3 linked regions of the Homo sapiens genome follow. The protein of the gene in region 1 interacts with the protein of each later gene in a biochemical or structural test. Each region holds a gene or a part of one and is shown on either strand. Other genes may lie near its edges.

The links.
Region 2: the proteins of FCRL3 (region 1) and ZAP70 form a complex in vitro, tested with the Homo sapiens proteins (one study listed by BioGRID).
Region 3: the proteins of FCRL3 (region 1) and SYK form a complex in vitro, tested with the Homo sapiens proteins (one study listed by BioGRID).

The regions. Positions count from the first base shown.
Region 1 is NC_000001.11:157,697,756-157,705,073, forward strand, and holds the start of FCRL3 (Fc receptor-like protein 3 isoform 1 precursor), read right to left. Parts: upstream 3,015-7,318; 5' UTR 2,907-3,014; intron 2,831-2,906; 5' UTR 2,735-2,830; coding exon 2,704-2,734; intron 1,958-2,703; coding exon 1,937-1,957; intron 875-1,936; coding exon 629-874; intron 165-628; coding exon 1-164. UniProt on the Homo sapiens protein: Promotes TLR9-induced B-cell proliferation, activation and survival but inhibits antibody production and suppresses plasma cell differentiation. Enhances activation of NF-kappa-B and MAPK signaling pathways in TLR9 stimulated B-cells.
Region 2 is NC_000002.12:97,716,571-97,723,679, reverse strand, and holds part of ZAP70 (tyrosine-protein kinase ZAP-70), read right to left. Parts: intron 1-7,109. UniProt on the Homo sapiens protein: Tyrosine kinase that plays an essential role in regulation of the adaptive immune response. Regulates motility, adhesion and cytokine expression of mature T-cells, as well as thymocyte development.
Region 3 is NC_000009.12:90,804,756-90,811,864, reverse strand, and holds part of SYK (tyrosine-protein kinase SYK), read right to left. Parts: intron 1-7,109. UniProt on the Homo sapiens protein: Non-receptor tyrosine kinase which mediates signal transduction downstream of a variety of transmembrane receptors including classical immunoreceptors like the B-cell receptor (BCR).

The sequences.
Region 1 (7,318 bases):
GACTGAATTCACTGTGATCTTCTCTAAATTATAACTATTAGGAAGCTGTTTTCCATCCTTGTAGTAAACCTTTTGATGAGTGTTTTTGTTGTCTTTCCCCTGACATCTCAGAATGACATTGTCTCCTTCAAAGACAGGATGTAAAGCCTGCAGGATCAGCCAGTCTGCAAAGAGCACAGGAGCACACTCAGGTTATCCCCTGCTGTTTCTGCCTTCACTTTCATTTCCACCCATGAGGCAAGAGCCACAGTTCTATACACACCTGCAAATGGCCCCCACCCACATTGCCATGTGGCCCCAAATACCTGATTCTTCCTTGCCCTACAAGGGTGAACCAATTCCCAGAAAATGTTCTTGAGAAATCTTCACATGTCTTTTCACAAAAGAGGAATCCCAGACTTGAACCCCTTTTTGCCTGATGGCCCCTGGGTCACCCACAATTCTTTGGAGGTAGATGGATAGACAATCCAGCATCATGCTGCTGCCCTATCTCTTTATTTTCCCCACTGGGGTCAGTGCATCAATCCCCATGTCTGCTTACAACTCTGCCTAGGATCCCTGCATTAACCCGGCCCTCAGGCATTCTGCCTGGTGGCTTGACTTTAGACACTCCCCTTCCATTCCTCACCAGGTGAAAATTCCACATGCACGGCATCACTGAGGGAGGATCCTCGGGTCTTACATTGGTAATTTCCAGGCTCTGTAATTTGGATCTTGTCATGTTTTATTTTCAACAACTTCTCATCGTGATACCAATATGTGTCTCCCTGGGCTAGGGAATGTGATATGCTGCTGCATATGAGAGCCACTTTTTCTCCTTTGAAGGCTGTGGACCATGGAGGATTGAGGAGAAGTACAGCTTTTGGGGCCACCCCTAAACAGGAAATAGAAAGATGAAGGCAGGGGAAGGTCAATGGGAGGTGGGCACAGCACATGGGGAGCCCAACCTACAGTCAGGAGTTTTCCTGGACTAATTTCCAGTCAGGACCAGGGTGGAAAATTGAGCAGAAATAACCTAGGGAAATGCCTGGGAAAGAATCTGTTCTTCCTCATCCATTTCCTGGAGGTGGGCAGAAGGGTATTATAGGGGAGAGGTCTCAGTTTCCTGGCATAGCCTCAGAAAAGCTCAGGAGATGTGATTTGCCATTGGGCAAAAACTGCGAAGGCCTCAGAATGTGGCTGATCCTGAAATTCTCTTGTCCTATACATTTCTGTCCAGATAAAGGTGAACCTGGGATGTATATACCTCAGAAGTAGTTTCTAGACTCCAGAAAATTACTTCCTACTTGTTAACACTTAAAATGAATAAGATTTTCTCACTTGTATTACTTTTATATCTCTCTTAGCTTTGAAAGTCTATGGGGAAGGCAACTTTACTCTCCATTTAAGTTGGACACAGTAAACAATGGAGGGATATAAAGAATTTAAATGGAGGAGGATGGGTTGCCTGAGAAGTCAGACTTGTGTATGGAATTGCAACTGACTGACAGGCATGGAAGTGAGGTGTGGCAGTGGCATGAGCTCTTTTTGGAGATTTATAAGGATTCTGCTGTAGCATCTTCCTCCGTGGATGGGATCTATTTCTATGTCCTTTGATAGCAGCACTAGCTTGGACATTCAGAGGGAGATGTACTAGAGAATATGGAGATCACATATGAGATTCCTTCATCATCAGCCTCTTGCCTCTGTCCTTTGCTCTGCAAGTGTTTCCTTCCTGTAGTCTGAGGAATACCGGTAATGTAGGGAGAAAAAAAAAAAAAAACCTAGAGACTGAAAAAGTCGGAGGAGGCTCTGTTCACCCAATATAGTAGCAGATGTGACCCCAGAGCATTAGCATTGCTGATGGGATGCGTGCCTGCAAGGGTTAGGGCAGGCTGTGTGGGCTGAGGGGACCAATATCCAGAGACCAGAGGGGCAGAGAGAAGGAGAAACTTACCTGATTGTTCTCTTCCAGGAGCTGTGAGGGAGCAGAAAATGACAATCAGACACTCTCCGAAACATTTTCTAACAACCTAACCACAACCACTTCTTTTGTTTTTCCTTATCATTTCTTTGCTCCCTTTTTATATCATCCAGAGCCCCTAAACAACAAAGAAAATGTCATATAATGTATTTTACAAACGTGATGGCTTATGTCCAAGGCCTGACCTCATCTCTGCTATTATTTACTTGGCCACGGCACACTTTATTCTCTCCTTCTCTTCTCTGAGTGCAGAGGCAGACAAGGACTTACAGAAATGGTTTATCCTCCTTTCGTTCCTTGGGCTCCTATTGTTCCCCTCACTTTTTCAATCTCTGATTAAATTTTGGCTTAAAACTTCTAGAAAACAGTGATGTTTCTCAGTAAACCTTCCTTCACGTGCCTAGGTTTTTAGAAGTAACTGCTCATCTGAAAAATTATTTAGTCTGAGGCTTAAGAGGGAGGGTGGGATATAGAGTTGTGGTTTGGCAGAAGGAAAAATCCAAGTTTCCTATGAGGTGAGAAAAGCAGTGGGTGAGAAACCAAGGTCAGGATATCTGGCTTGCTCTGATGGTTGCATTTGGAGCCTCTTGGTTGTCCAGGGAACCCAGCTCTGCTCACTTCCCATCCCTTGCTATCTGTCTCTGAACCCCAAGTAGAAGCAGAGATAGAAGCTCCTTGAGTTTTTCCCTGGTCACCTTTAGGAACTGAGGCCGTGGCCCCATTATAGCCCATCTACTCACTCAGGATCAGCAGCAGCAGCCACAGAAGCATGGGCACCGGCCGGGCAGAGGGTTGGGAAAGTCTGTCTCACCAAAAGCCCGACTTATCTCCAAGAAGGAGGGCAGGAAGCTGCTACTCAGATGAGACCTGCAAGAATCAGAAAAGGGAAGAAGAGCTTAGTGTCATATTTTGCTTTGGGCTCTGAAAATGTGAATGTGGCTACCTTCCTAAATGCTGTTTGTATCTCAATCCCGGTAGTGATACATTTTTAGAAGTTGGGGCTCATCTTCCATCAGCTGCAGTCTCTCAGGAGTAATGTCTCCAAGACTGTGCCTGGGTTCTCTAGAAATATCAAGTTGTGTATTTGCTAGTATTCAAATAATTCTTTCTGTATTTTTCATATGGGAAACCCCTTCACTACCTTGTCTTCACACAGCCTTTGGTTCTGCATGCAGCTCCTAATGTAGGCAAGCTTAATGAGCGTGGTGTGAATCACACAGTCAAGGTGTCAAGCATATGCCTTTTTGACTTTCACATAAGTTGTTATGAGGCTTCTGAACAGGAAAATAATACAAATGTACAGATCAAGGACTTCCCGTAATCTCACCCAGATCTGCAAATTAGGAGATAAATCAGCAAGCGTACCACCGTTTTTAAAGCCAAAGCCCTTCTCAGAAAGGGCTTTGCAATCAAAGAGGTTCCACCCCATTATTTTGTTTCAGGTCCTTTGTGTTTTTTTCACAGTGTTTATAACAATTTGCAATTATTTTCTCTATTTCCTTGTTTGCTTTCGTGTCTTCTTTCCCACTAACATTTAAGGGCCCCTTTTCTTACCCCTTATATCCCCCGCACCTCTAACTGTTCTTTCTTGAAAGCATTCCTTTAGTAAGTATTATTTGAGGGACTATTGAATAAAAACTCTGAACCAGTGTTTCTCAACCATTTTTTCGTTATTGCTCCCCTAAGGATCTTTTTTAGACAATTTTGTTTTTAGCCACCCCCTTTTTCCATGAAAATTTAATACCACAAATATACTATGTATGTGTTTATGTGCTGCATGTATAGCTGTGTTTGATACATTAAAAAATTAGTTTTTTTCATCTTCCCAAGAGTCAATTCTTGCCCCTTTGAAGGTGATATAACTTCTGTTAGGAAGGCGTGTTTTAGACTTAGAGGTAAGCCATTCTTGGGAATCTACCTACCAGGATAAAGTTGTCATCATTCAGATACCTTTACATTAGAAATGGGAGATGATCTCAGATCAAATGTCCCATCCTCAGGGTGCCCAACCTTGGCAGGTAATGGAAAGAGGGTCCTCTTTTTTAACAAATATTATTATGTTCTTTCTCCCATGGAAGTCACCAAATTTTATCATTCTCTATATGTTTATGTGATTGTATAATGCCTATTTTTCTCATTAGATAGTATTACAAGGTTTGGGAACAAGCCTGGTTTGTTCTTCATTTTGTTTCAATGCCTAACAGAGCACTTGTCACATACCAATTTGTCAATAAGGACTTGCCAAATGAACGACCAACAAACAGTAAGGAACAGGATGACAATAGAAGAGGATTGGATGTGTTTCAATGTGTGCTTAGTCATTCCTGGTTAGAGATTTCTCCAATATTCTGGAGAAGATATATTGGTTATATCAATTTATTTAAATTAAATTAAATTATTTATTTAAACTATACCCAGTTAATCCACACTACAGGGTCTTTGTAAACTTGTAATTGTAGAGTATGGTGCCACATCTACTGAGAGGTATTCTCTGACCTCCCACATTTGGGCTGGGTGTTCCTCTCATGTGCATCAATAACACTTGGATTTCCTTCACTCCAGAACCGATCACAGTGAACTGAAACATCCTGTCCCTTTGATGGTATTCCTCAATGATCTAAGTATCTTTAGGGAAGGGAGCGGTTAGGGCTTATTTTTTATTTCTCTGAGGACAGCATGCTCATCAACAAAAGGAAGGTTCAGTGGGATATGGATAGCTTCGAGATTCAGTGTGTCATTTCAGACTAATTCAAAATATGAATAAACCTCAAATATACTTCATGCTCAAAGGTGACGATGTTGTTGATGACTCTGAAGTATTGTTTCCTGTGGTTGGAAAGATATGCTCAGAAAAGAGTATTTTGAATTTAATTGCTCATCTGTAGCCAAAAATGTTACATTTTTCTACGTCTCTCTCTGAAGACAGGAACTATGTCATATTCACATTATTCTAGCACCTAGCACAGTGCCTAACACTCAGTAGAGGATTGCCAGATAAAATGCAAGGGTCTCATTTAAATTTGTATTTCAAATAAAAAACAAATAATTTTTACTATAATTATGTTCCATACAATACTTGGGATATGTATGAGTTCGTTTTCATGCTGCTGATAAAGACGTAACAAGACTGGGCAATTTACAAAATAAAGAGGTTTATTGGACTTACAGTTCCACATGGCTGGGGAGGCCTCACAATCATGGCAGAAGGCAAGGAGGAGCAAGTCACATCTTACATGAATGGCAGCAGGCAAAGAGAGAATGAGAGCCAAGCGAAATGGGTTTCCCCTTATCAAACCATCAGATCTCGTGAGATTTACTCACTACCAGAAGAACAGTATGGAGAAAACTGTCCCCAGGATTCAATTATTTCTCACTGGGTCCCTCCCACAACACATGGGAGTTATGGGAGTACAGTTCAAGATGAGATTTGGGTGGAGACATGGAGCCATATCAGGATATAATTGCATTTAAAAAGTAGTCACTGTTTATCTGAAATACAAATGTAACTAGGAGTCCCATATTTTTATTTGCTAAATACGCCAAATCTAATTGAACAGAATAACTTTTCATTTGCCTGAATATATTAATGAATGGTTGTGTTGGGGGGACATCTATTTTCTTCCATGTGCATGCAACTCCTACTCCTGTTCCTCCTTCTGCTCCTTAACTCACTCCATCCTGGAAGAAGTGACGTGCCTTATGTGATCAGTAAATTTGGGAAGAATAATTGAGTCATGATAAACTTATTATTATTATTACTATAATTTTTTGAGAAAGAGTCTCACTTTGTTGCCCAGGCTGGAGTGCAGTGGCACAATCTCGGCTCACTGCAAACTCTGCATCCTGGATTCAAGCGATTCTGGTGCCTCAGCCTCCCGAGTAGCTGGGACTATAGGCACGTGCCACCACGCCCAGCTAATTTTTGTATTCTTAGTAGATACTGGGTTTCACCATGCTGGCCAGGATGGTCTCGATCTCCTGACCTCATGATCCACCCACTCGGCCTCCCAAAGTGCAGGGATTACAGGCATGAGCCACCGCACCTGGCCCCATGCTAAACTTAACTCCATGCTCTTCCCCCTGGATGCAACTCTACTGGCAGAAGGGTTTATGAACAAGTATACGCCTTCCCCTGTGTGGAGATTTAAGTGGGGAGGGAGTGAGGGAGTCTAAAGTTCCAGAGCAAATTTTCAGAGACACAAACAATTGGGGCATGGGTTTAGATGTAAAAGAACTAAAAACAAAAGAACAAATGTATGAGAGCTATATATTTACAAGGAGAGGCTTTTGGTGGGAAGAGATCCTGTCATTCTCAGCCTTGGGATTTGTTTAGTAAGAGAGACGGGCATTTTCCAGATTGTAGAGGCCTATTCTGAGCCACCTTTTATACTTAACTACTGAGCCTGGGCAAGATGCTTGCAGTCTTAGGGCATATGGTTTTGTGACACGACTTGTGGTGGCTTTGTTCATAGGTCAGTGGTTGTTTCTATAGAGGCAGGACTGTACCCATGAATGTCAATAAGCAAAAGGCACAAGAAACTTGTGAGGGCCTTCAAGATTGCTGCGAAGCCCTTGTAAGCAGGGACAGACAAGGCAAGGGCTTACGTATGGGCAGTAAGTGCTTGGAAGGACACAAGTGCTGCCTGGCAACAGAACTTTGGGGGCTGCAAGATGGTTCAACAGAGGCCCACAGTAGGCACAGTCACATTTTCTAGGTAGTCATAGCTGAAGCAGATAGTCTTTTGTTTTGTTTTTTTTGGGGGGAGGGAGGGGCAAAAATAGAAATCTCTAAAGCATTTTTAGGCACTGGTGACTGGAATAATATTTTTGGCTCCAAGATTCCTTGTATGCTACAAAACACCAATGAGAATCTAGTTTTAAATTGCTAGAATGAAGCCTAGAAAAGCTTCCCATGTCTCAGTCACCCCAAATCTCACCCTGCTTTCAGGTCCAAGCAGCAAACTGGATGGATTACTCTTGAATTCATGTGGCATTCTCTTGGCTCAAGGGTGGAAAACATTTAAACAATTACTGACATGATTACATAGTTATTGTAGGTGGCTTAATTTTTTAATTCTTTCATATACAGATGGGGCTGTGCTCCCCAGACTGGTCCTGAACTCCTAGACTCAAACAATCCACCCACCTCTGCCTCCCAAAGTGCTGGGGCTCCAGGTGTGAGGAAACACACCTGGTCAGTTATATTTTCTAACTGAACTAAATGTAAGTACAAGGTGAAAATATTCCCTAGGAGACAGTCTTCTTAGGCCAGTACAATTCCATATCAAGCAGAGGTTGGTCTGCTCACTTGAGAGAGTAGATGCTGTGTCACATAAGAGGTCCCTCACTGAATTC
Region 2 (7,109 bases), on another chromosome or scaffold:
TATGCACGCTTGAGGCAGGCGCGGTCCCACCCCGTCCTCCCGAAGGCAACACTCTAAGGAGGGAGAGCCGTGAGATAAACTGAGAAAGAAACAAAAATAATAATTACAGATTGAGGTCAGCATTACAAAGGAAATAAGTGGAGTGACATTAAGAGAGAGAAGAGGTGGCTCTAGCTAGGATGGTCACCTTCTCCAAGGAGCTAGCATTTGAAGGGAGAGCTGAAGGAGGAGGAGCCAACTTTTCAAAAAGCGCGCGGGACAGCGCATCAGGCAGAGAGGACTGCATGCGCAGAGGCCCTGAGGCCGCACCCAGCTTTGCTCACCCAAGGGCCCTACCCCTCAGCCTCCCTTGTCCCTTCCGCTGACCCTTTCCCCTCGGCCTTAGCAGGCACCCCTCGCCCTGCCCTCTGCCTTCCTTGGCAAGTTTCTACAGAGCATACGCTAATTGGAATATCCATCCCTAGGGGACTGGTTAAATGCATTAGGGTTTAATCTCAAAGTGAACTCTGATACAGCTATTAAACAAAACGTGTGATTGAGGGGAGGAGGAATTAAGGCTATTTAGACAGATGGATATCTGGTAAGGCAGATAACTTAAAATTGCCTGCCCTCAACTTTCTGGGGTGATGGTGACGTCCTGTATATTCACAGGGCTTGGGTTATGCAAGTGTCTGATTTTCCGAAAACTAAGAGAATGTACACTTAAGATGTGTTCATTCCATTGTATTTGCCCTCCCTCAATTAAAAAAGAAACATAAAATATTGAACCCTAGGTAACGATCTGCTTGCAGAAATGTTTAGGAGTGATGGGAACTGAGGACTGTAATCTAATTTGAGAGCATCCCAAAAATAACACTGACCGATGGACGAACAGAGCGAGAGGGATGGATAAAAGGATAGACAGCCAGATAGACACAGTTGATTTCTGTCATTCTCTGCAGTTCTATAAAGTCAACGAAAACACTGAATTAGCAATATAGAACTATCCCTCCTAGGGGAAATACAGAGTTAGGTTCCTAGGAAACTGTTTACATTTTCATCAACTGATCAAGACATAACCTTGTTTTTTTGTGAGTTTCTGTTTAAAGGCACCTTATTTAATAGACATGGTTGATTCACTAACATTGAACTCTTAGCCAACAGCACTATAACTATAAGCTTATCTGACATGTTTTCTCCATAAGGCACATACAGCATTCTTGCCCTTAGGAATGCTAGATAGCATTTCAGCACTATGGTTGGGGGCCATGTCAACCACTGAAATCACCAACAAAAAGCACAAACATTCAAAATATGTGAGGCCGAGTGCAACGGCTCATGCCTGTCATCCAGCACTTTGGGAGGCCAAGGCGGGTGGATCACTTGAGACCAGCAGTTCGAGACCAGCCTGGCTAACATGGTGAAACCCCGTCTCCACCATAAATACAAAAAATTAGCCAGAGGTGGTGGCGGGCACCTGTAATCCCAGCTACTTGGGAGGCTGAGGCAGGAGAACCTCGTGAACCCAAGAGGCGGAGATTCCATTGAGCCGAGATCAGGCCACTGCACTCCAGCCTGGGCAACAAGCGCGAAACTCTGTCTTTAAAAAGATAAAATAGGCCGAGCGTGGTGGCTCACGCCTGTAATCCCAGCACTTTGGGAGGCCAAGGCAGGTGGATCACAAGGTCAGGCATTCGAGACCATCTTGGCCAACACAGTGAAACCCCGTCTCTACTAAAAATACAAAAAATTAGCCGGGCATGGTGGCAGGTGCCTGTAATTCCAGCTACTCGGGAGGCTGAAGCAGAATTGCTTGAACCTGGGAGGCGGAGGTTGCAGTGAGCTGAGATCGCGCCACTGCCACTGCACTCCAGCTGGGGCGACAGTGCGAGACAGCAATCTCAAAAAAAAAAAAGATAAAATAAAAAAACAAAATATGTGGCACCACCAAATAGAACATGAAAAAGATTGGCCGGCTGCGGTGGCTCACGCCTCTAATCCAGCATTATGGGAGGCCGAGGCGGGTGGATCACAAGGTCAGGAGACCAAGACCATCCTGGCTAACACAGTGAAACCCTGTCTCTACTAAAAATACAAAAAAAAAAAAAAAAAAAAAAAAATCAGCCAGCCATGGTGGCGGGCGCCTGTAGTCCCAGCTACTCGGGAGGCCAAGGCAGAAGAATGACATGAACCCAGGAGGCAGAGCTTGCAGTGAGCTGAGGTCACGCCATTGCACTCCAGCCTGGGCGACAGAGTGAGACTCTGTCTCAAAAAAAAAGAACATGAAAAAGACACTTATCTGCAGCATGAGAGTGTTTGCCTTGTGCAGCCTCGGTGGGAAAATGTGTATCGAGTGATTCATATTTTTGCCACTCTGTATGTCTGAGAATGACCACAAAAGTGCCATGTTGGTTTTAGGGTTTCAGATAAATTTAACAAGTAGGCAAACTCACAAATAAGAACTCCGCAGTGTTGATCAACTGTATGTGATAAAGCAATTATAGCAAATCATAAACTGGAGAATCTAGCAGGTGAGTTATTGGTGTACAGTTAATTCTTTCTATTTTCTGCATATTTGTAAGTTTTCATAGAATGTTGGGAAAAAATACCTCTCCATAGCGGTTCTGAGTTGTTTCTCTACTAACATAGGCCCAGCAAGGCTACTCAGGCATAAGTTTGCATTGGAGAATTGACTTTGAGTGCCCTTCTTAGTTATGCAAATGCAACCAAGGGGTAAAATGAATGCTTTTGTGAAAGCTCCCTCTGCCCTGGGTGTCCAGAGATGGGCTCTGGAGCTGAAAGGAAGGTACTGGAATGGGAATCAGGTGAAGTCTGGGTCAGAGTAGCTAGAGGAGGGGCCAGGATCTGCACTGTAACCCGATTGATTGTGACAGTGAGGTTGGGAGGGCCAAGCTTGAGGGGGGTCCTGGATGTCCCAACAGTTACAGACAGGTGGGTGTTCCAGAGATTCATAAGGGACTGCATTTGTGGCTCCACCTGGAGAAAAAGGTCACCATTCCACAAGAGTGTTTTTAAAAAGTCATGAAGCGGCTGGGCGAAGTGGCTCACGCTTGTAATCCCAGCACTTTGGGAGATCAAGGCGGGTGGATCACATGGGGCCAGCAGTCTGAGACCAGCCTGGCCAACATGGTGAAACCCCGTCTCCATTAAGATACAAAAATTAATGGCTGGGCCCGGTGGCCCACACTTTGGGAGGCCGAGGCAGGCGGATCACCTAAAGTCAGGAGTTTGAGACTAGCCTGGCGAACATGGTGAAACCCCGTCTCTATTAAAAATACAAAAAAATTAGTCGGGCGTGGTGGTGGGCGCCTGTAGTCCCAGCTCCTCAGGAGGCTGAGGCAGGAGAATCGCTTGAACCCAGGAGGTGGAAGTTGCAGTGAGCCGAGATCGCACCACTTCACTCCAGCCTGGGCAACAGAGCAAAACTCCATCTCAAAACAAAACAAAACAAAACAAAACAAAAAAACCCATGAAGGCTCCTAGGTATTCACTCTAAAGAAATGGAAATTTACATTCACACAAAAACCTACACAGGAACATTTATAGCCGTACTAGCCACAGTTGCCAAAAATTAGGAATAACTTACATGTTTCCCAACAGATGAATAAGATACACTGTGGGACATGCCTACAGTGGAATTCTACTCCGCGGTAAGTGGAACAGCATACGGAGACACGCAGTTCCGCAAACGCATCGCAAAGGCCTCAGGCTGGATGAAAGAAACCAGGTTCCAAGGGCTACGAATTGTGTGATTCCACACACAACTATAGGGACGGAAAACGCACCAGAGGTTGCTGGGTGCTGGGGGCCGGAGAAGGAGTGACGACAGAGGGCAGGACGGAATTTGGGGGAATAGTCTGTATCTTGATTGATGTGGTGGTAGTCTCTGGGCTGTATGCATTTGTCAAATCTCAGAATTTTTCACTAAAATGATATAAAAATTTTATTGCATGTAAATTATACCCCAAATTTTTAATTAAGGGGGAAAGGAACTGGAAGATACAGACACAATGGACACTAAAAATGCTAATGAAAATAGGAAAAGTGATTAAGGGCTGTCTACACTCCTGTCCCTATGTCCTTGACTCCCAGCCTCTCAGCCAGACCTGGTCTGCGCCCCCCCCCCAGGCTGTTCTCCAGCACTGATAGCACCCCTGGCAGTCTGTAGGCACCAGACAAGCACTCTGTGACCTCCTCAATCCTGGGCCCCCTGAATGGCCGACACCTATGACTCCTCCCTCCTGCTTGAGCCCCACAGACCTCTCTGGTCCTTCACAAACTCCCTGGCTTGCCTCTGCCCTCTGACCATCCTGCTCACTCTCCTTCCCCCACCCCCGTCCCCTTACTTGGGTCATCCTGTCAGTAGCTGTACATGCTGCCACACCCACCTCTCCCAGAGCCCAGATCTCTCGCCCGACTGAGGTCGGTTGGTGCTGGCATCATCTCCTTTGATCTCCACCAACTGTTTCCATTAATACAACCAACCTAAGATCCAGATGGCATGCTCATGCTGCCTGTGGCTGGCTGAACCTCACAGTCTATTTCCACAGAGCTGAGCCCCAGAGTCTGCAAGTTGCTCCTTGGCAATTCTTCCCCAAGGCCTCCCTTGCTCAAGACCCTAATGGCTACTGCATTGGATCTCCCCAGCCCTCTGCCCCAGCTGAGCTGTGCTACTTGCCTTCCTTCAAATGGATGTTCATACTTTCATCCACACAGCACCCTCCACCTAGTGCACCCTTCCCTCTCCCCTCCATCTTCTCCAACCCAGCCAGCCCATCCTTGAAGACTCATGGAGCCACTCCCATAAAGCATGAGGATGCAGGATGAGGCAGAAAACTGAGGGCTTGTCCAAGGACCATGGGTGCAGAGTAGCAAAGCTGGTCTCTGGGGCAGGAAGCTGTGGCAGGAAACTGTCGCCAACACAGTTTGAGAAGCTCCTCCCCACGTGGCCGCAGGTGCAGCCTGGGTAGCTAGAAGTGGGTTAGGGCAGAAGAGGAGATGAGGGAGGCTCAGTGCCCAGCCCAGGGCTGCCATCCATGACCCGAGGCTAAGGAGTCCCAGAGGCAGGCTCTCTTCCTGTGCATCTCGGCTGCGTCCCAGCTTCCCTGTCCCACTGCCCACAAGGACAACGGTAATCACAAGCACCACCCCACACACACAGGTCGGGTGGTGGGCGCCTCCTCTTCCACCCCTGGGGCCTTTCTGGACTGTCCTCACTAGTAAAACATGGGGCCCAAGTTCCCAGGGACCCCATGGCCAGAGATGCTGGGGAGGCCAGAGAAGGTGGGCAGAGGTGGCAGAGATGAAAAGTCCGGGGGCAAGAGGTGGGAGCATTTGCCACGCAGCGGCTAGCCGGAGTGTCTGCTGTCAGTGAGCTGCACCGATCTAGAGCTCCCCGGGGTGACCCCAGACCCCAGGCAGGGGATCAAATGTTTCTGTTCTCAGCTGTGTCCCTGCAGACTCGTGGCCCTCCCAGAAGACACACCCACCATGAGACCCACCCCAGCCCTCGACCTGCCTGGGCCATCCCGACGGACAGGACTTGGGTTAGGAGCCGCGTCCCTCAGTCCCCAGTGAGCCTGTTCATTCCCCAAGCCTGGCCTATGGTTCTCCCTAGGCTGACCCCAGTCAGCTTCCTCTTGAGCTCACAGTTCAGAGATCCTAGTTTGGCCTTCCCAGAACTTACAGCCCCTGGATCACAGCACAGAGATCACAGCAGAGCAGCCACGGGGCACCTGCCCCACACTCACAGCCCAGGCCCTGGGAGGATGATGGGAGGAAGCCTTGGAGCCTGGTCAGAAGGACCTGCCTGGAATCCCACCATTCACCCAGCCTCCCTGGGTAAAGGCAGTGCTAGATTACAGCTGTTCCAGAGAGATCAGATTCCCCAAACATGCTTCAAAGGAAAAAAGAGTCAAGGGGTCAAATACAGTTTCAAATGCTGTGAAAAGCACATTAAAGGCTCCGAGAAGACCACATGGAAGGACCTCTTTCAGCGTCACTTAATTCCCACACCTATTCAGCAAAGCCTTGAAGGTCTACTGTTTCACAGAACATTCCCTGGGCATCAGAAGCCCCCATTACATGCCCATCGTCAGAGCAGAGGTATCACACCAAAGCCACTGGACCTGGTGGGAGCGGGCAGGAGCAGCACAAGCTCCACATGTCCCCCCAGCCAGAGGCTCCACGTGTCCCCCCAGCCAGAGGCTCAGAGGCTCCTCGTGTCCCCCCAGCCAGAGGCTCCACATGTCACCCCAGCCAGAGGCTCAGAGGCTCCGCATGTCCCCCCAGCCAGAGGCTCCGCATGTCTCCCCAGCCAGAGGCTCCGCATGTCCCCCCAGCCAGAGGCTTGACATGTCCCCATCCAAGGCTCTGCAGGAGCAGGGCCCCAGCCCCTCACCGCCCCACCTCCTCCTACTGCCCCCCCACCACCCTGTTCCCACTCCAGCTCCTGGCTCTCTCTCTCTGAACCCCTAGTCCTCACCTGAGACCCTAAGTCCCTCTGAAGCCATGTTCCCTGCTCCTTAATCCCCCAGCTGTGCTCGGGCCGCCTGTGCCCACCAACAGAGGCAGCATAGGCACTGGTCGTCAGCACACGCCAGCTTGGTGACGCCATGAGCCACACAGCCGCAGTTAGCCATGGCTGCAGGCTCCTCCTTCATATGTCTTTCCTGACTGCAGGGATTGGATTCAAATCATGGAATCGTGGACCCACCACATGGTCACAGTGCAGCCTCAGCAGCGAGTGAAGCTCGCCAGACCTCCTCCGGAAAGCAGGGCCAGTGAAGGTGTCCAGCACTGGGGCTGCAGGGACTCCCTGGGGTGAGACTTGCTGGCCCCCGTCATGCCATCACATCCTCTTCTCTGCTTGAAGCCCTCTAGGCTCCCACCTCACTCGGGGTGAAAATGCAAGTCCTCAGGGTGGCCCCCAAGGCCCTTCATGATGCCCATCACCACCCCCCGCCACTCACTCCCCTCCAGCCACACGGGCCTCCTCATGTTATTCGTTCAGGTCCCTCGGACAAACCAGGCATGGTGCAGCCTCAGGGCCTTTGTACTGTCTGTTCCCTCTGCCTGGAGACTCTTCCTCCAACACCTTCCACTTTATT
Region 3 (7,109 bases), on another chromosome or scaffold:
AGCCTTGACCTCTTGGACTCAAGTGATCCCCCCACCTCAGCGCCCCCATGTAGCTGGGACTACAGGTGCACACCACCAGTCCAGGCTAGTTTTTTTTTTTGGTATTTGTCATAGAGGTGGGGTTTTGCCATATTGCCCAGGCTGGCTTCAAACTCCTGAGCTCAAGCAATCCACCCACCTTGGCTTCCCAAAGTGCTGGAATTACAGGCATGAGTCATTGCACCCAACCCAGCATGAGTTTTTTAAACAAATACAATGATATGTTACATCTTGCTTTTTCACTAGTAGAACTTGGACATTGTTATATTTGGTGTATGAAATAAATTCCACATTTTTTAGAAGACTGCATAGGATTCCAACATATGAATCAACTGTACTTCCCTTAGTGATTTTTTTTTGCTATTATAAAATAAAATGTTGCAATGAATATTTCTCCACTTTTGTCAATTTATATGTGTGATAGGTTCCTAAAAGTGAAGTTGTTGAGTGAAAGCACTTGTGTTTTAAATTTTAAAAGATATTACCAAACGGCCCTGTCAGCACCCATCTGTGTCTTTTTTCTTATTGATTTGAAAAAACTCGCTGCATATTAAAGCTATTGATGCTTTACCACAAGTATTGAAATTAAATATATCTTACCATTTTTTTCACTTATTTGTATATTTTTTCATTTTATGGGGATTTGCTTAAAATTTTAGGAAATCATGCTTATCAATCTTGTGATGAGTGTGAATATAAATTCATATGTTTTATCACATTTAGACAGGCCTCTTCACAATTATTTTAAAACTCACCTAAGTTTTCTTTTAATAGCTTCATTATTTCAATGCTATATTTTTATTCTTTGTTCAGCTTGGAATTTATTTTGATATAAAGAGCAAAGTTTTGTTTTTTTTTCCAAACGATTTGCCGTTTTCCCAAGACCATTCATCCATGGCCCTGCACCTCCCCCGCCTGGTGTGCAAAGCCTCCCTTGGACCCATGCCTGCATATTATCTGGGTCTGGGCTCTACTCCCCACAGCAGCTTCACTTTACAATTTTGTGGAGTTTGTCTCCCTTAACACCTTTATCTTACATTTCTTCCCTGAGTCTTCTCATAAGTCTCTCTCTCTTTAAGTTTTTGCACATCTAAAGTGAAAGAAACACTTTACCGTAAGTATTTTAATGTGCTTAATTGTGTTTGGTCTTCACACTGACAGAGTTCTGGAATCATCTGTACAGCAGGCTCATTTCAGGGGCCTTAGACATCTGTCCATCTCCATATCTGGAGAGCTCCCTGGTGCTCTTGATGGCATCACAGAAAGGCCATCGTGGGGAGGTGCCAGTCTTCACTCACACATTTGTTACAGGTTGAATTGTGTCCCCCCAAGTTCAAATGTTGATGTCCTAACTCCCTAACCCCTCTGAGTGTGACCTTATTTAAAGACAGGGTCTTTACAGCAGTGATTACGCCCCATTGAAGTCCTTAGGGTGAGCCCTACTCCAACATGACTGGTGTCCTTACATGAAAAGGAGATCTGGACCCAGAGACAGGCACACAGGGAGCATGCCATGTGGAGCTGGAGATGGTCACCCACAAGCCAAGGAGATGCTGGGGGCACATTGTCCCACCCAACCCTTGGAAGGAGCCACCCTGGGACATCCTGACCTCAGTCTCTTTGGCTCAGAGTTGGGAGGCGACACATTGGGCTGTTCAAGCCGTTCAGTATGTGGTGCTTTGTTATGAAAGCCTGATCGGACTGATACTCCATTCCTCCATAACAGACACTGACACAGCTTCCAGAGTCTTCTGAGAAGAAACAAGCTCCGGGGAATACCTTACACACTGCTGGCTTCTTTGGGGAAATCATCCCTCACAAACGCTTGCCTTTCTAGCCTGAGCCCTTCTCCCCAGCTGCCAAGCTGCCTTTCCTTGACCAAATCATTGAAGTCCCACCTGCCTCACAAACATTTCCATAACAGGAGGGAAACGGGTCTGAGATCTGTCCACACCTGTCCACTCCCAACCCTCACGACAGCAACACAAGCAGAGAGCAGCAGTTCTGCCCCGTAGGGGGACAGCCACAGACATGGAGGTCTGATGTGGGAAGGACAGAGACACTCACAGCTAGGGGCTCGGCACTCACTTTCCACGAGGCTCTAGTTCACTCTGGATAGTAAATTTATCTCTATGGAAGGAAGGCATGCATAAAAGCTTCAGCTCTTCTCACTTGAGTCTCTCATTGGTTTGGGATTGTGTCTAATTCCTATTGTATATGCTTAACTTCTCAATGCAAAAGCCACAAAGATCAAAACAAGTTTTGTGTAACCATTGGTGATGAGTAAAATTGGCATGTCTGACACTGAGCCTGTGTCCTCCCTCTGCCTCTCCAGGCTTTCCTGAGCTGCTGACAGGACTCCAAACCTGCCCACCAATTAGGCAGGACAGCAGATCCTCTTTTACGCCTTATTAGAGTAGTGGATAGGGATTCTGGTTCTGGATTAGAAACACCTAGTTTTGAGAGTTCTAATCCCAGCAGCATCACTCAGTGGTTGGACAAATCCCTTCACCTTTCTGAGCCCGTTTCTAATCGGGTTGAATTAGATACTCTGCATATTTAAACAGGCTTCTAAGAATCTATGAATTTGGACCCTCGGTATCCTAATAAGCAGGACAGACTTCATGACAGAGCTACAAGATCACCAGCAGTGATTTGGGGAACCTAACGCCAAGGCCTGCGATGCAGCCTGCTCTAGCCAGGCTCTTCCTGAGCCCTCACTGTGAGTTCCTTCACGTAGCCATGACCATCAGCTGATTGGTGTTGTTAACCAAAAGGAAGTGGTGGCCTTCCACCTCAAGCATATGCACAGCTATAAATGCAGAGAAGGGGAAGAAACATGAAAAACAGTATTACAGAAAATGAAGTCATAGCACGCTGAGGATCTGAGGAGATGTTCCATGAGTAGCTTGGCAATGAATGCTCTCCTTGAAAGGCATGAAGCAGGTCAGGCTCACACTGAAGGGGGCAATCACAGTCCCCCTGTGCAGGCAGGCAGCAGTGTGGGGGGTGCAAGGTGGGAGAAGACCAAGGGTGGAGTGCCTTAGAAGCGACAGAGACCTGAGGGAGGAACAGGGAGGAGCGGGAGGACAAGGGAAGAGTAGATGCTCCCCAGCTCCAAGAAAGCAGCAGAAGACGCCTCGCAGGAAAAGACAGGTGTGTGGCTTCGTTTGAATAGGGAAGGCATGGCCATACCCACAAAGAACAGGGAGTTCCTGCCACCCACACACCACACAGACCAGTTATGGGCCCATCCTGCCCTGTGCACATCCAGGTCTTGCCCTCCTCCTATCTCATGTGGGACAGGCTGCAAGAATGCAGCCTTAAAAGACTAATGCCTAGGGTACCTAAAAAAAAAAAAAAACCAACACACACGTGGAAATACCCAGCACATCAGGAAAGCTGACAGCAGGAGAGAGAGGCACCAAGCATGCAAGCAGATGAACTGATACCCCGGGAGACGGGGGTAATGGTGCACTCAAACAAGTAATAAAATACACAGAAAACTAATACATCACTTAAAAAAATCCCAAAGAAGTAACTACATTCCTTGGAAATTAACCACCTGCTTGCTAAAATAATCATAGGAAAACTAAGTGGATGGACTGAAGAACAGGATGGACAGGGATGAAGGGCTTCCTTGAGATAAAGATTAACCTGATGGTTTCATGAAAACACAGTGCAAATGGCAAAGGAGAGGGAAAGAATGAAAAGAAAAAGTGCATTCATTGCAGCACTGTTTATAATATCAAAAATTAAAAAAAATCGACATGCCTATTCTGGACTGTCATAAAAATTACAATAATCACTGAATATGGAGACCTCCCCGCACCCCAACATATTAATAAAAAGAAAGTTCCAGAGTGATAAAGGTATTAAGAAGACATACACAGCCCACCATTATATCTTCTGAAGACGTGCACACATGCACACATGAATGCACAGGACGAAAGAAGAGAGGTTAGAGCTCCAACTGCTCCCCAACAGTGGGACTGGGGGCAGGGCTGGGACTGAGGGTGGAGGTTAAGAAGGGCTTTTCTGTTGCTCGCTGTATCTGAATCCTGTACTAAAGGATATGTACTCGTGTATCAGTTATGCAATGGACAACTTTCCTAAAAGAAAATATTAGAAAGTTCTCCCATCTTGGAGGTCAGAGAAACTAACTTTGGCAATTGTAGTTGCTCATCAAACCTATCTGGACGTGCCTTCCCTCCAAGACTGCAGGGCAGATTCCCAGAGTCAGCCCGCCTGGGAGAGGCTCTGACAGTTATGTCAGTTTTAACCACATACCAGGTACCGAGCACTGCAGGCACGGTCTCCATTAGGTATCAGAGTGAAGCCCCCTGTGACTGCTCCATTTACAAAAGAAGAGCTTACAAATAAAGAAGGGGGACTTGAACCCAGTGGGGCCTCAGACCCTTACTCTCAACCCGTAGCTACAAAAATATTCGATAAATGTCACTTTGAGGCAGTGTATCCACCACATAATTCATATATTGTTAGCATTTAAGATGAAAACAACCACAACATTCTGCCTCTACCAAGCAAAGCCTAAGGAGCTTGGTAAGGAGCAGCAAGAGGTCATGCATGGTTTCCCAAAGAGGCTGTGGCAGAGCCAGCCCTGAAAGCCACTCTAAGAACAAACGCACTGCAGGGTCATGGAAGTGTAGGACCACTGGCTGAGACTGACTCTCTCAGAGAATCTCTGTGCATGTTACCTGCACAAAGGCTCTGAAGATGCCCATGATATTTATCCCTGCTTGCTGCACTTTATTTCATTCAGCATTTCTCATGCTTACTTACTTGAGCAAGCTTCCCAGGGAATTCCACTTAGCACTGCAGTTCCACTTCAGGAATCAATCAAGGAAATCGAGGAGAAGGCCAGCAATCTGCTTAAAGTCTCATGAGATCTCCATTTCCACAAAAATAAACATTCTCATCACTCAGATAATAAAATGTTGGTGTCGTATATAATACAAAAGTGACATTGACACTGATGTAAAACATAGATGCTAACTGTTAAAGTGGAGTTAAAAACCATCTCTCACTAAGCATGATTCAGAATGCACCCTGATGGAAGAAATCATAAAAGTTCTATACTACAATAAATAAATAACCATAGAATTAAAAAGCTCTGGAGAAATATTTTCAATAATTATGACAGTGGATTTACAACAGGTAAAATGTAGGTGAGTGTTAACAAGAGGCATATTAATGCCACAGATGTTACAACAAAGAGTATGATAAGCAATTTACATAAAACATATTTAGTCAACAAATATTCCCCATAGGGCTGGGCACAGTGGATCATGCCTATAATCCCAGCACTTTGGGAGGCTGAGGCAAGAGGATTGCTTGGGCCCAGGAGTTTGAGACTAGCCTGGGCAATATAGTGAGAGCCCATCTCTACAAAAAAGAAAAAGAAAAAAAAAAAAGAAAAGTCCCACACCAAATATCCTCCAAACATTCTTCAGGTATTACTGTATGTATAGCAAGACTGAAGAGCAACTGTTAGACAAGAAGAAGATGGAGGGTTCTAGAAAAAAAGAAAGAAAAATGGAACCGTGAGATTACTTGGTATATCTGACACTGTAGAAAATTGTGTCAATAGGGCTTTCATCTTTATGTCAGAAAGTTGGGAAGGAAATGATAATAGGCACAGTGCAAACTAAGAAAACACAAAAACAAAGCAAGGGTTTACCCCAGGAAGAGCAAAAAGGGGTACGAGATAGAAAATGGAATGATATACCTTGCTTTAGCAGTAAACTATATTTATATAACCATAATAAAATAAACCAAATAACTTCTTAATCTCAAATGAGAGAATAATTATCCTGGGATGGTGTGAGAAGGAGTAGAAGGTGATGGTGGTCTAAAACTCCAAAGTCCTGAATTCTCAGTGTCAACAAACACTGTTTAAAATTAGTACACCAAAAAACTTTGAAAATATGCCAATCATAAGGAAATAGTGAGAATTCTAGAGGACATAACTCAAAGCAGTACCAAAGGATGGGCAGAATGAAAAGAGGAACTCATTACAAATTAAAATTAAACAAAAAGAGAAATTAACTTAGGTCACACCAAAACATTTTCATGTCAACTCAACAGGAACTGATAGATGTAATATTAATAAACTACCAGGTTGACCATGGGAAAATAAAGATTTATCAGTTAAGACAAACCAATGGAGGGGAGAAATGAAAGGTCATATGTTGAACATTCAAATGCTACTTATAGTCAGGCAGAGTATACTTAAGTAAAGCAATATTTAAACTGTGGATATTCCTAAATCTCTGCCCTGGGCCCTCCTTCTGTTGAATTTACTTTCTCTCCCTAGTTCACAGTATCCAGGTCGAGAGCCTCCCTCACCCTGCTCGGTAGACCTGCAGCTTGCCTGCAAGGTTTTCACTCAGGTCAAGACATCTCTCATCTGCATCCCAGGCTAAAAGCCCACTGTCTCCTCACACTTATGCTCCCTTCCAGCGCTCCAGGACAGCAGTAACTGGAAGCGCCTCTCCAGCTCAGAGCCAGGATCCCAGTTTCAGAGCTAGACACCTCTGAGCAGAGGACCAGAAAGCTCACAGTACTCCTCAGTAATCCAGTAATCATCAACATTCTTAACTGTCCTCGCTTGCTCCACCACCATCTGCCTTTGGCCAGCTGCCAGAAATCAATACGTGGTGTCCCAGAAAGAAAAGAATCAAGGGAGCCATTTGGATTTATTAAATGTACTGTAACATAAACAAAATATTCTTTCTTTGCATATCTTTGGTCTTGGCTAAATTCAACTGTCTTTAAGATTCCAGTTTAACCACCTTTTAAGAGATGTAGGGCAAACCTTGCACAATTGATTCATAAAGGAAAAAAAAACCTCAAATTGATACAAGCTAATATTGGTCAGATAAAATTATAAGCAAATAGAAAATGTCCCTGATAACATCATATCAAAATGAATGAACTTTCCTAAAATCCAATCAGACTAGTTCTTAAAACATCTTCCCACAATCCCTCAGTAGAAAACCCTTTTTTCCTAGTATTCAAATCCAACCTGTTCAAATCTAAGTAGAAGA